Homo sapiens: one gene and its partners. The protein of the gene in region 4 interacts with the protein of the main gene of each other region in a pairwise test. Each region holds a gene or a part of one and is shown on either strand. Other genes may lie near its edges.

Region 1 (3,009 bases), on a different chromosome or scaffold from region 4:
CCATGGATTTTCATTAGTTCCTGTATGGCCTGTATTTAATAGAAATAAATCTGTAAATAAAAAATGAAATACACAACATCCCTCTTTTGCCCTACAACCCCTTTCTACTTATACTTCCTTTCCTATCAGGCCACAAACCTCATCATTCTCTCTCTTGCCAATCTTCTTAGCTTTCTTGACCTTATTCCACATCAGTGAGCAAAACCTAAATTCTCGATTAGTGTATTGACCTTTTTAGACCTATATCTTAACTATTGAGAACTTCAGGAAAAAAAATAAAAAGATTACGGATTGCTGCTTCTACATAGGAATGTTCTCCAACCTCAAACAGGCCCTCAGCATGGCCTCACAATTATTCTGTTTGATCTGCTCCTCTCATTTTCCATGAATGTTATTCCTGCCTTCACTATTCTCTTAAGATCCCCAATCTACTGTCTCCCTTCCTACCCTACACTTTGCTTTCTACGTAATACAAGAAATGGAGGTAGACCTCCCAAAACTCTTCCTTTTCATAAACTTTAACAAAAAAATGAAGAAACTGCTGTCATCCAGTAGGAATACAAAATACTTCAGGTGAGCATTATTCACTGGAAATGTGAAGTTTCAAATTCTTGGTGAACAGTCAACTTTGTTCCCGATGCCTACTCTGTTACCACTAATAATCAGAGTATCCATAAAGGAATCCCTTTGAAGTAGATAAGAATCTGAGTACATGCTCTGTTAATATAGTAATAGATGGTATGATCTAGAGTGAATCATCCAGACCCAGCTTTATCATTAGGATAGTGATGTCCAAACGCTCTGTGAACAGCCCAGGATTATAGGGCTCAGCATTGGACACTTTTTACCTTATCCCATATAACCAAGCCTAAATAAGCTTTGACAAAATGCCTATATGAAATATTTTTAAAGTAGTTTTAAAACAATTTAATATTCTAAGAGTAGAAAATACTGTAAAGAAATCTTTATGAAAAAGAGCAGTGTTTAATTTCAAATACATTTATTTTCTTAAGACTGGATTTTTACCTAATAGGTTTGTCTAAAGTAGGGGCATTCCTATGATGGGTTGGTATTTATTTTCTCAGATGAGCCGCTGATATAAGCCCATATAGCATTCAGTTTTTTTAATTTTTATTTTTAGAGATAGGGTCTTACTCTGTCATTCAGGCCGTAGTGCAGTGGCAAATCATGGATCACTGCAGCCTTGACCTCCCGGACTCTAGTGATCTTCCCACCTTAGCCTCTCAAGTAGCTGGGACTGCAGGCATGTGCCACCACACCCAGCTAATTTTTAATTTTTTTGTAGAGATGGAGTCTCCCTATGTTGCCCAGGCTGGTTTCCCAACTCCTGGGCTCAAGCAACCCTCCTTCCCTGGCCTCCCAACGTGCTGGGATTAGAAGCATGAGCGACCACGCCTGGCCTAAAAATTATTTTCATGGTTTATTTCAACATAGCAAATAAAAGTATCTACAACTGGCTGGGCACAGCCTCCCCAGTAACCGGGACCACAGGCATGTGACCACTACACCCAGCTAATTTTTTAAATTTTTTGTAGAAGTTGGGGTTTCCCTGTGTTGCCCAGGCTGGTCTCAAACTCCTGTGCTCAAGTGAACCTCCTGCCTCAGCTTCCCTAAGTGCTAGGATTACAGGTGTGAGCCACCATGCCTGGGGTATGATTTTTTAATTTTTTTTTTTCTTTTTGAGACTCAGTCTCGCTCTGTTACCCAGGCTGCAGTGCAGTGGCGCAATCTCGGCTCACTGCAAGCTCTGCCTCCTGGGTTCATGCCATTCTCCTGCCTCAGCCTCCCGAGTAGCTGGGACTATAGGCGCCCGCCACCACGCCCGGCTGATTTTTTTGCATTTTTAGTAGAGATGGGTTTCACCATGTTAGTGAGGATGGTTTTGATCTCCTGACCTTGCGATCCGCCCACCCTGGCCTCCCAAAGTGCTGGGATTACAGGCATGAGCCACCGCAACCCGGCCGATTTTTAAATTTAATAAAAGCATTTACATAACAGATTTCAGAAAGAAATCAAGTTTTTAGTTTTCTTTCCTACTTAAAAAAATTGAGTGAAAGCTGATTTGACTAGATGTAAAATAAAAATATGTAAATATACGTCAGGGGCTGTACTACCATTGGAAATACAAATATGTGATAAATTCTATACTTGTGATGAAAAACTTGTAAGATGCTAAGCAGTTCAGAAAAGGTAGCTCCTTTCCACAGAAATTTTTATAGACTTTGGTAGTTGTAGTTTTTTTTTTTTTTTTTTTTTTGAGACCGAGTGTTGCTTTGCTGCCCAAGCTAGAATGCAGTGACGCGATTTCAGCTCACTGCAACCTCCGCCTCCTGGGTTCAAGTGATTCTCCTGCCTCAGCCTCCCAAGTAGCTGGGATTACAGGCATGTGGACCCAGTTATTGGGGAGGCTGAGTGGGAAGACTGCCTGAGCCCAGGAGTTGGAGGTTGCGGCGAGCTATGATCATGCCACTGCAGCCTGGGCGACAGAGCCAGACCCTTTCTCAAAAAAAGAAAAAAATAAATAAAAATCACGAGTTAGGTAAAATGGTTACTAAATATTTAATTTAAACCAAATGATATATCTTTAATTTGCTCTTCTTTTTCTAATTTCCTAAAGTAGATGCTGATTTTAGATCTTTAACATTTTCCAGTATATGCATTCAATACTATAAATTTCCCTCTAGCCACTGCTTTTGCTGCATCTCACAATTTTTTTTTTTTTTTTTTTTTTGAGACGGAGTCTCGCTCTGTCGCCCAGGCTGGAGTGCAGTGGCACGATCTCGGCTCACTGCAAACTCTGCCTCCCGGGTTCACGCCATTCTCCTGCCTCAGCCTCCCAAATAGCTGGTACTACAGGCACCCACCACCACACCTGGCTAATTTTTTGTATTTTTAGTAGAGACGGGGTTTCACCATGTTAGCCAGGATGGTCTCTATCTCCTGACCTTGTGATCCACCTGCCTCGGCCTCCCAAAGTGCTGGGATTAC
Region 2 (3,500 bases), on a different chromosome or scaffold from region 4:
TACTGAATGCAATGGACCATTCCAACCTAAGTTATCTTGATATGCTGGGATTACAATAGAGTGGACAGTTGCGATAAAGATTTATACTCATTAATTACCACAAGCCTAGAAGAATAAAGATTTAGGCGGGATACCAAGTTTGAAACAGGTGGGTTGACATTTTTATAAGTATTGTAGGCCATATTTGTTACAGACAACACTTAGCGCAAACCTGTGTGTCTGCCATGCTCTTCTTTCACTTGTCTTATGAATGTATTACATTTCATTGTTTCGGGTGGCTAGGAGAGAAAATCAAGATTGCATTACATTGATTTTAATATTGCATAAAATGAAAACCAGTCTTTTGCTGTGCATAACTAAATGATATGCCTACAGTAAAAATCATGCCCTGGCTGGGCGCGGTGTCTCACGCCTGTAATCTCAGCACTTTGGGAGGGCAAGATGGGCAGATCACAAGGTCAGGAGTTCGAGACCAGCCTGGACAACAGGGTGAAACCTTGTTGCTACTAAAAATACAAAAATTAGCCAGGCGTGGTGGTGCATGCCTGTAATCCCAGCTACTCAGGAGGCTGGGGCAGGAGAATCACTTGAATCCAGGAGGCAGAGGTTGCAGTGAGCTTAGATCACACCATTGCACTCCATCCTGGGTGACAGAGAGAGACTCTGTCTCAAAAAAAAAAAAAAACAAAAAAACCCCATATTCATATTTAGATGTAAACATCAAATATATTTTTGTTTTGTATTATAAAACATTAAGAGGTGTTTGACAAGCACCCCTTGTATAAACAGGAGGAGGTGAAGGTTGCTGGCGCATATGAATTTAGCTTATATGTGCTGATGTGTAAAAACTCAAATCCCCAAAATATTTTCATACATTTTATACATAATCCAGAAATTTATAAGAGCTACAGATTTGGTCAGGTGTGGGTCATGCAGCTGGGAAATACTTGGCTCCATAAGGATGTTTGACTGCACCCTCTGCCCGTTTTAACTGTAAGCACCTGTGGGGTCAGATGCTCTCACTAGTTTGGTGCCAGGGAATTTATAGGAGCTCGGAGAATGTCACCTCCTGAAGGTTATGTGCTTGGAACTTCCAGCTTCATTTTCATGCTCATCTCATCATGATTCTATCATCTAGGAATTATCTAAGAGCTTCCCGACTATGGGATTCTTCCTAAAAAGGCAACCTCAGGAGCAGCCTTAGCTGAGAACACAAATGAAGAATGTTCTTCAAAGGCTCTCTGTTTGGACGATTTGGAAAGTACCTTTCACCTGACATTCAGACTGGTTTAAATAAGGACTCTGTATGAAGAAATGCAAAGCTATAAAAACTAAGTCAAATTACCTGTACATGATTGCCTGAGAGGGGTTTCTTCCTTCCTCTTTTTCTTTTCACTCCTGAAAATTTAGCTAAAAATATAAACCATTTAAAAATTGGAATCCATAAAGGAAAAGATTACTGTTTGACTACATGAAATATACAACTCATATGCCAAAAGTTTTTACAAAGTCAAAAGATATGGCAAACTTCAACTAAGTGTTTGCAGCACTTATGATAAAGGGTTAATTTTTAAAAAAGATATTATAAGTTTAATGCAAAACAGGTAAATAATTGAGTAGAAAAATTGGCACATGGGGAACTCTCTGGGGAGAGGGTTCATTGAATAGAAAAATGAACAAATTGGGTCATAGGAAAACAAATATAATTGGTGAAAAGATATGGGAATGCACTCAATTTCACTCAGAAGATATTCAAAGTAAAACAGACTAATAAGGATGAAGATATTTAATAGATGACATTTGCAAGGATTTGGTTAAGTGTGTATTGCTGGTGCTTTTCCCTGTCAATAAACACTGATTTAAAGAAGTATCTGTAATAGCCTTTCCTGCTGAGTTAAAAGGGTAACGACTGAAAAATGATTGTAGAGGTGCTATTTGGAGAATGTTATCACCATAAAATGCAGTTGGCATGACGCAGAACGAAGTCTTCCAACGAGGTCCTGACTCCACTTCACAATGAACATTGCAGATGTAGTGCTGCTAAGACACTGCTGTTCCACTCATGAATGAAAGTATACCCCATGACTCCAGTTAGCCAGGATCCAGTCTGCCTTAATTAGAACTGAAATGCTAACCATGCATCCTTAGGGAATTTTCACTCAGGGAAGGTGCAGCACTTTTAAAATTTTATCTACTGAAAATTCTTATGGAAGAGAAGCAGTCCCAAAAGTCAAGGCTTTTTCCCATGTCTTAGTTTGGTTCTGTGAGCGTAGGGAGAATGAAAGATACCAGGGAATGGTTCAAAGAGAATAGGTCTTGTTCATAAAGAAGAAAAAATTAGTCAGTCATATCACATAGTACACAAAGAAGTTGTCAATTTTCTAGATGTGTAAAATTTTAACTCAAACATTTGTATTTTAATTCAACGAGGCTAGAAAATTAGACTATTCCTTATGTTACATAAATGTTTACCTTTCTTTAAAACCCACAGTGCTAAATTTTAGAAACTTACCACTTTGAGCGATGATCGGGAATTGAGCATGTTGCTGGCAAAGCAGTCTGAAATATTTAATTTCAAAGAATTGTAAAATATTTTTATTTACAGGTTTCAAATATTATGTCTATTTTTGTGATTAAAAACGTACCAACCTACTTTTCATGACGGCGTCACACTAAAGTTTTTTTTTTTGAAGCCCTGTGTAAAATTAGTGACCCACACTGAGTGCAGATGGAGACTCAGTTAGATGTCTTTTATGCCCTCAGGGACTTAGGAAGATGATTATGTTCTTTCAAGGAATGAGTACTGATGAAGTATTATGAACAATACTAGTTCATATACAGTGGTCAGTGAGATTTTACTGTATAAAGATACCTAAAGATCCACAATCTAAGACATGCAGATTTCCATCTGACTGTACAAGATTCTGCTGGTTTTCAACAATAAATAGCACAAAATTGCAAGCATTAATTTAAGGAAAAAGTCATTTTCGATGAAAACAGGTATTTGCCCCAGATCTTAGATTTGACCTACAAAGGGCCTAGAACTGATTAGTATCTTCCAAGAGAAAGCAGCAGCATAGCAGGCTATGATGAAGAAATGAAGTGAGGCCGGGCACGGTGGCTCATGCCTGTAATCCCAGCATTTTGGGAGGCCGAGGCGGGCAGATCACGAGGTCAAGAGATGGAGACCCTCCTGGCCAACATGGTGAAACCCCGCCTCTACTAAAAATACAAAAATTAGCTGGGCATGGTGGCACGTGCCTGTAGACCCAGCTACTCAGGAGGCTGAGGCAGGAGAATCGCTTGAACCCAGGAGGCTGGAAGTTGCAGTGAGCTGAGATCGCACCATTGCAGTCCAGCCTGGGCCACAGAGCAAGACTCTGTCTTAAAACAAAACAAAACAAAAGAAATGAAGTGAATCGTTTTATAGAGCTGCTCAGGCCACTTTCTAACCTTTCCTCCTCCTCGGCACCCAGCTTCATCTCCCTTCCTCTTCAGAT
Region 3 (3,500 bases), on a different chromosome or scaffold from region 4:
TGAGGTTTCTATCTGGAGTTTCAGGATGTGTTTATCCTTGTATTGCGAAAAAAAGCCCGTCTCTTGCCCAATCTGCTGTCTCGAAGAGATTCTATACTGGTCGTCTGGGTATTCAGCTTTCCTCTTTTTACAATTACACAGGAGACGATTTAAAATCACCAGACGGGGCGGGGTGGGGGAGACGGCCAGTCTATCGCGGGTGCCATTCGCACTTCCTTCGACCCAGAGACTCGGAGGCTTCCTCGACTGCCTCCCAAACGCCACGGGACGGGGCAGAGCAAGCCTGCAGCCCGGTAGAGCAGGAGCCGCAGCCCCAGGACTCCAAGGGCGCGCCCGAAATGGGGTCCCTCAAGCGACCAGTCAGTTCTCCCTCCAGGCACTGAAGCAGGGCGGGGACAGGTGGGGCGGGGTGGGGGACCGGGGTGCTGTTCTGGAGGGTTTGGTGTGCACGCTCTCCCTAGACGCCGGAAGAAAGGAATAGCAAATTTAACGATCAGCCTAATTGTTAGAGAAGGCACCAACTCCTGCCCCGACGGCTGTTCTCCAGGCTAAATGCGATTCTGTTGTGCTATACAATGGGTGAAGCTGTAGATAAAGCTGTCTCTCTCCGACACTCTCCAAAGCAGCCTGCGCGAGAGGGACCCCCACCCTCCGGGCCGGGCGGTAGTGGGCGCCCAGTATCCCTCCACTCGAACTGGGCTGGAAGGAGGCAGGCGGCCACGGGAAATAGAGCCTGTGGCGACTGCGCTGTCGGATCGCAGCGCCCTCCGGGTTATTAATGGGCCTGGAGGAGCCGCCGTGTCTGCGCCTCAGCGCGGATGGCCTGCCCCGAGAAGGTGGCCTCGGCGCCCGCCGGCGCGACCCAGCCTCCTTGGCCCAGCTTCCCTGAGGAGCCACGGCGACCCCGCGCAAGTGTCAGGCTTATGGCACTGAGCCTGACACCTGGCGAGTCCCGCCTGGCAGACACGGTGAAAGCTGGCCACTGATGGATGCGCCAGAGCGGGGCGGCGGGTGGCCCTCGGGGCACCCGGGTACCTGCCGCCGCCAGCCTTGGCCGCAGCCAGGCCTGTTGGATCACCCTGGATGTGCCCTATCTGCGCTGAAATGACCGAAATGCCCAAGAAACTTGTGAGTCTGTATGAAACGTTTGTGTCAGGAACAGCTAATCGCAACCCAGCATGGTAAGGGAGCCCTCGATTTGCCATTTGCTTCACAGCAAAGGAGGGCTGACTATGTAAGCCTCCTGTCTCACTGGAGGGGGCTCTAGCCAGCCAAACCTTTGCCTCAGTCAGCAGCTACTCCTCTACTCCTCCCAAGAGAGCTGGAAGAATGAGGGCTGCAAGCTTCTCAGAAATGTCCCCAGACCTCTGAAGTGAAAAGCAACAACTTGTTTCGGAAAGCAGAGAAGTGTCCATGCCGCTGGGCCTCCCTTGCACAAAGGCCCTCTTCTGTCCTTCCTCTGCCAGCAACACAAACTATTGTTAAAATTCTCCCAGACTCTGCTTTTGACCCCAGGGCCTGGATGGGAGTATTCTCACACTTATCCATATGTCAACTCCTCTGAAACACACACACTTCACACACCCTCTCAAGCTTATTGATTGTGAAAATAAAAACTTCAAGACATTTTGGGAATTACATGAAAGACAATAAACACAATTACAGTGCATACCATGTGTCAGACACCTGTCTAGAACCAAAAACCAGCATATTATCTAAGTATCATGATTCCCATTCTGCAGATAAAGCAATTCCCAAGCACTACTACTCCACCAAGAACCAGAAGCTAGAAAGTGGCAGAGAAAGGATTCACAGTCAAGGCTGCCTGACTGCAAGGCCTCTAAACCCAGAGATTTTTAAAAGACTAATGAAAGCTGGGGAAATTTAACATTCAAACTCATGACTCAATTGAATTGAAATATTTCACTGAAGTAACTTTGGGGGCCATGAAAATTGCTGTAGCATGATTGAGTTATAGAGGTTTCTCTCTTTCCCACACTCTTGTGTTTTCGGACATTAAAGTAAGAGATTGGATAGGAAAATACATAGATAATGTCTATAATTTTGAATGTTACTGTCTGACTTCAGAGACAGCCTTTCAGCACCTTTGCAAAAATAGCTAAAAGCAAATGACAATAAGCAAAGGCAATATGCCCATGGAAATAGAAATAAGTCACTCCAGGGAGTTACTTAACTGATTTTTTTTTCTGCTTGACTCAATGATGCAAATGGTCAGAAGAGTGTTTAGTTTTCATTCCCTAGCAGCCTGTGCCAGAGACAGTCAACTTCCAACATGCTTCTCCACACGTGTCATCCCATCAACGACATCAGCATAGGTACCAACTCCAGCCACTACCTCCATAGACAAAAAGCACACTTCTAATATTTGTAATGCATGATAATAAAACTGTGGCTAAGGCCTTTCTCCAAGAAGTCCTCTAAAGCCGTCTTCAACTTATTGTTTCATTTGTCTCCATAAAGAGTTGAAAAACTTAATAGTAGCATTATGCTACTATTAAAAGTGAAAAACTGAGGCTCTCCCAATATCTAGAAGACTATCTGTGTGTTAGGTCCACAGCAGGCTAGACAAAGTCAATCAACTTTAATTAGTCCACCCAACAGGGGTCTTCTTAATTTGTGAACCACTTCATGCTATATCAAAATATTCTGCCAGAAAAGTTGACCAACTGCCATCAAGATACATGTTATATTCCAATGTTATTTTTTAATACACAAAATCCCCCAGCTGAAACATTTGGGTTCTAACTTATGTCTGAGTCTCAGGGTAGCTTGAGGATATTAAAAACAAGTAACATTTCTTGGGATTGACAAATATGCTTAAGAAGACAAACATTCTAGCAGAGTATAAACACCTACATGAAAAGGTTTGAAAGAGAAGCAGGCTATATGAGAGGACCAAACTATGTATAAATGTATATAATATATGTCATTATATTATATATACACACACAGAGCATTCCAAGCCAAGCAATACATAATACAACTACTTAGGTTCCTAACAAGGAAGCAAGTAAATGTTCATACTTTCTCTTAAAATCAGGGGAAGAGTTTTTGTACAAGTTCATAATTGTTATTCATAAATACTCTTCTATCTTGAGTAAATCTGTCAATGCTCCTGTCTAAGCGTCTCTGAGTAAAGGAAGGTGCTGTCATTAGGTTACAGACTTGTTCGCCTCCTGGCATCAGAAGGCCAGGCCAAGTGCAGTTAAGAGCAGACTTTCACTCTTCATTTCCTATCCTTCTGTGTTGTTTCAATGTCTTTAAAGTGCAATAGATCTTTACAATATATCTATTTTAAGGTAAAGGCGGCAAAGCAGGCCATGGTTTTCTTTTCTGGAATTTCATTTCTCGTTCTAGGAAAGGTGAAATATAAAACGCTTCCGGGCTTTTGGTGTGTGGAGAGGCCAACAGTCATGTGTAGGCGCGTGGGGAGTGAGAGCTACATCACATCTTCACTCCCCAGTACCTGCCCGACGCCT
Region 4 (3,500 bases):
CATGCGGAGGTGCGGTTTTTCAGTGCTGGCACTGGGGATTCCTCCCTCTCCATCCTTCCTCCTTTCCTTCCTTCCTTACGTGTTCATTGAAACCTACTCTGTGCCAGCTATGCATGCAGAAGGCAGGGTCAGGCTGACACGGGGCCCTTCCCAGAGAGGCTTCAGCCTCACACACACTGCGCCACGGGTCTGCCTTGGGTACAAAAAGGGTGAGAGGTCAGTCTCCCTGGGGAAGGAGCACCTGGAGCTTATTCAAAGGTGGAGCAGGAAACCATGTTCTAAGAAGGACGCCAAAGGCCAGCAAGGTTCAGCTGCAGTGCTGACTGAGGGGGTGTGGCCACCGCAGGGGACATGTGTCCTGTTTTGCACCTGGACAGCCCCTCTTCAATACTTTCCTGTGGTATGTGGCTTCACTAAGGAGAAGCTAGAAAACCCCCTCTCCCAGCTCCCTTTGCACCTGTGCTGCAGGAGTGTGACCAGACGCCTCCAAGCCAAAGCGTGGATTTGGAAATGACGGTGAAGGTAGTGATGGTGGCATGTGGCACTGAGGGACAGCAGTGGTGGGGGCTCTGGTCAGTGGTGTGAGTGGTGATGTCTTGCCCAGCAGGGGTGCCGTGGGGCCTATACTGGCACCAACCCCTGCTGGAGTCTGGACTTCATTCCTGCTGCCCATCTTCCATCCCGACTCTCTGGCCCTCCTGGAGATCCTATGGGCTATCTCATACTCTTCCATAAACTCCTTTCTTGCTTAAAACAGTTCCAGTGGATTCTCATGTTTGCAGGTAAGAACCATGGCTGCATTTTCTGAAGCTCTGTCCTGGCCAGGAGTTGGAAGGAAGATGACTGCCTCAGGTGATCAGGCTTGGCTGGCAGTGGCAGTGCTGCCCACCCGAGAAGGGGTGGACAGATGAGGGCCTCAGGAGGGAGGGAGGGTGGCCTAGCACTTGGCTGTTGGGCAGGGGCAGATCCCACCTGGCAGCATGCTGTACATTGGGAGGGGGCTGTGAGATGGCCTGCAAGCCCCATTCAGCCTAGGAGGCCAGGAGTCTATAGAGTCCAACCTCATTTTGGTGGGGAACCAGGCCTAAGGTCACACCCAGAGCGCTGGAATGGAGCTGGCCAGGGGAGACCAAGCACTAGCAGGAAGTCCAGGGTGGGCAGGGAGCAGCTCCGGGGAGGCGAGAGGGGGCTCAGAGGGCAGATGAGTAGGGTAGGATGAGGGGTCGATAGAGGACACATGGCACCACCTGGTAACCCCAAACTCCAGCAGCTAGCACCAGACCTGACACACAGGTTCTCAAAACATATGTATGATGGAATAAATCAATGCATGAAACCGAGCACAGCCACTTTTTTGCCTTTGCAGACTCAGAGAACAGAAATCCCAGCCCTTCATCTCTCAGGCCAGAAACCCAGGCATCATCTGGGGATTCCTCCTACCCATTCTCCAATTCCAATCTCCATTCCTGTGGCATCTCTTGACCTGCCTGTTTCTCCCCATCCCCACTGCCCCTGTCTTGGTCCAGGCCACCATCATCTCTCTCCTGGACATTGTGGCCTCCTCCCAAGTTCTCTTCCAGCCTCCCATCCTGGCCTCCTCTGTCCATCTTCCACTCTATCTCTAAAGTGACTTTTCTAAAGCACTAATCTGACCATGTGAATGCTTTCATCCCTCAGTTCAAAACACTCCCCTGGGCTGGGTGCAGTGGCTCACACCTCCCAGCTCTTTGGGAGGCCAAGGTGGGCAGATCACTTGAGGTCAAGAGTTTGAGACCAGCCTGGCCAACATGGTGAAACACTGTCTCTACTAAAAATACAAAAATTAGCTGGGCATGGTGGCACGTGCTTGTCGTCTCAGCTCTTCCAGGGGCTGAGGCAGGAGAATCCCTTGAACCTGGGAGGCAAAGGTTGCAGTAAGCTGAGATTGAGCCACTGCATTCTAGCCTGGGCAATAGAGTGAGACCCTGTCTCAAAAACAAACAAACAAACATTCCTGTCTCCTATCTCATTACAGGACAAAGTCTGAACTCCATGGCACATAAGGCCTTCATGAACTAACTATGGCCTATGGATCCAGCTGTGTCTCTCAATCCCCCCACCCTTATACCCTCACCTCTCCTCAAGTCAGGCTGCACCCCAGCTGGTTCCCCAGCCTGTCAAGCTCTCACATGTACACAGTTCCTGTCTGTCCTCTCTGCGTCCTCTCTATATACAGTGTGCTCCTACTCATTGTCCAGCACCCAACCCTACCATCACCTCTTCCTAGAAGTCTTCCCAGACTGCATCCTTCTCCCAGCCAGAGAGTGTCAGACATTTCTTGGACATAATTTTGCTAGCTTCATATTTACAAAATTGTTTAAGCTGTATTGTAAATAACTGTTTCTGAGCAAGTCCCCCACCCAACTGTGAGCTCCTAATGTCCAGCAAGTGACCTGGCTCAGTACATATTGATGAATAAACGAATGAACACATAGAAGGTGGGAACGGTGAATGATTAAAATCATTAGCTGTGGCCCAAGAGAATTTGAAAAAAAAAGATGACAAAGCCCTGAAACCGTTTTCTGATGTGAGAATAGCATGCTTCTCCATGGAAGGATTCCTTTGTATTCCATAGCCTTAAAAACGACCATTATTTAAAAAGAGACAATTACATGTAACACTTTGTGCATCTTGCCTCTCTTAAAGCACAACACCCATTATGCCTAGGAAAACACTTCATCCAGAATTTGGCTCAAACAGCTGACAATGAGACACAGGCTGAACCGACTGAGGCCACATAAAGACACAAGAGTGGAAATCCCCAGCTGGAGACTGGCTTGGCGGGTTTTGTGTTGACTGGCTTATTTGTCTGTCTTATTTTCCAGCCAGAGCCCATACTAATCTGTGGTTAGAGTTGGTGCCACTTTTAGTTGTACCCTGCCTTGTCCCACAGCCTTTAAAGTGTCTTGTGAAGGTCCTCTAATAAGGCAAGATTTTTCTTTATAGCGAGAAAAATGAAGCTAAGAGAAAATTAGACACAAAGTGTTTGCCATGAAGCCTTAGTCTGGTTAGTCAAAGCAGATTTGGCTCTGAACTTCCCAAGGCAAAGAAGGAAACAGGAGGAGCTCTATTAGTGGAAAAGCAATTCTAGTGCAGAAGTGACTGCACAGGGATATTGACACCAGACAACAGTTTCTTCCACGGTTCCCTAAAGACAGGAACACCATCGGCCGGGTGCGGTGGCTCACGCCTGTAATCCCAGCACTTTGAGGGGCCGAGGGGGGCGGATCACGAGGTCAGGAGATGGAGACCATCCTGGCTAACATGGTGAAACCCCATCTCTACTAAAAAATACAAAAAATTAGCTGGGCGTGGTGGGGGGCGCCTGTAGTCCCAGCTACTCGGGAGGCTGAGGCAGGAGAATGGTGGGAGGTGGAGCTTGCTGTAAGCCGAGATCACACCACTGCACTCCAGCCTGGGCGACAGAGCAAGACTCCGTCTCAAAAAAAAAGAAAAAAGTA

What was found. Proteins that work in one complex are often made in the same cells at the same time.
Region 1: the proteins of TRIM14 (region 4) and PPP2R3C interact in a two-hybrid assay, tested with the Homo sapiens proteins (one large-scale study listed by BioGRID).
Region 2: the proteins of TRIM14 (region 4) and PHF11 interact in a two-hybrid assay, tested with the Homo sapiens proteins (one large-scale study listed by BioGRID).
Region 3: the proteins of TRIM14 (region 4) and PRDM6 interact in binary tests that used the Homo sapiens proteins (3 or more experiments, as listed by UniProt).

The regions. Positions count from the first base shown.
Region 1 is NC_000014.9:35,087,982-35,090,990, forward strand, and holds part of PPP2R3C (serine/threonine-protein phosphatase 2A regulatory subunit B'' subunit gamma), read right to left. Parts: intron 30-3,009; coding exon 1-29. UniProt on the Homo sapiens protein: May regulate MCM3AP phosphorylation through phosphatase recruitment. May act as a negative regulator of ABCB1 expression and function through the dephosphorylation of ABCB1 by TFPI2/PPP2R3C complex.
Region 2 is NC_000013.11:49,519,953-49,523,452, reverse strand, and holds part of PHF11 (PHD finger protein 11), read right to left. Parts: intron 2,560-3,500; coding exon 2,513-2,559; intron 1,411-2,512; coding exon 1,346-1,410; intron 279-1,345; coding exon 212-278; intron 1-211. Other genes in the region: SETDB2-PHF11 protein, read right to left, coding at 212-278, 1,346-1,410, 2,513-2,559. UniProt on the Homo sapiens protein: Positive regulator of Th1-type cytokine gene expression.
Region 3 is NC_000005.10:123,095,741-123,099,240, reverse strand, and holds part of PRDM6 (putative histone-lysine N-methyltransferase PRDM6), read right to left. Parts: intron 15-3,500; exon of another isoform or gene 1-14. UniProt on the Homo sapiens protein: Putative histone methyltransferase that acts as a transcriptional repressor of smooth muscle gene expression.
Region 4 is NC_000009.12:98,095,223-98,098,722, forward strand, and holds part of TRIM14 (tripartite motif-containing protein 14), read right to left. Parts: intron 1-3,500.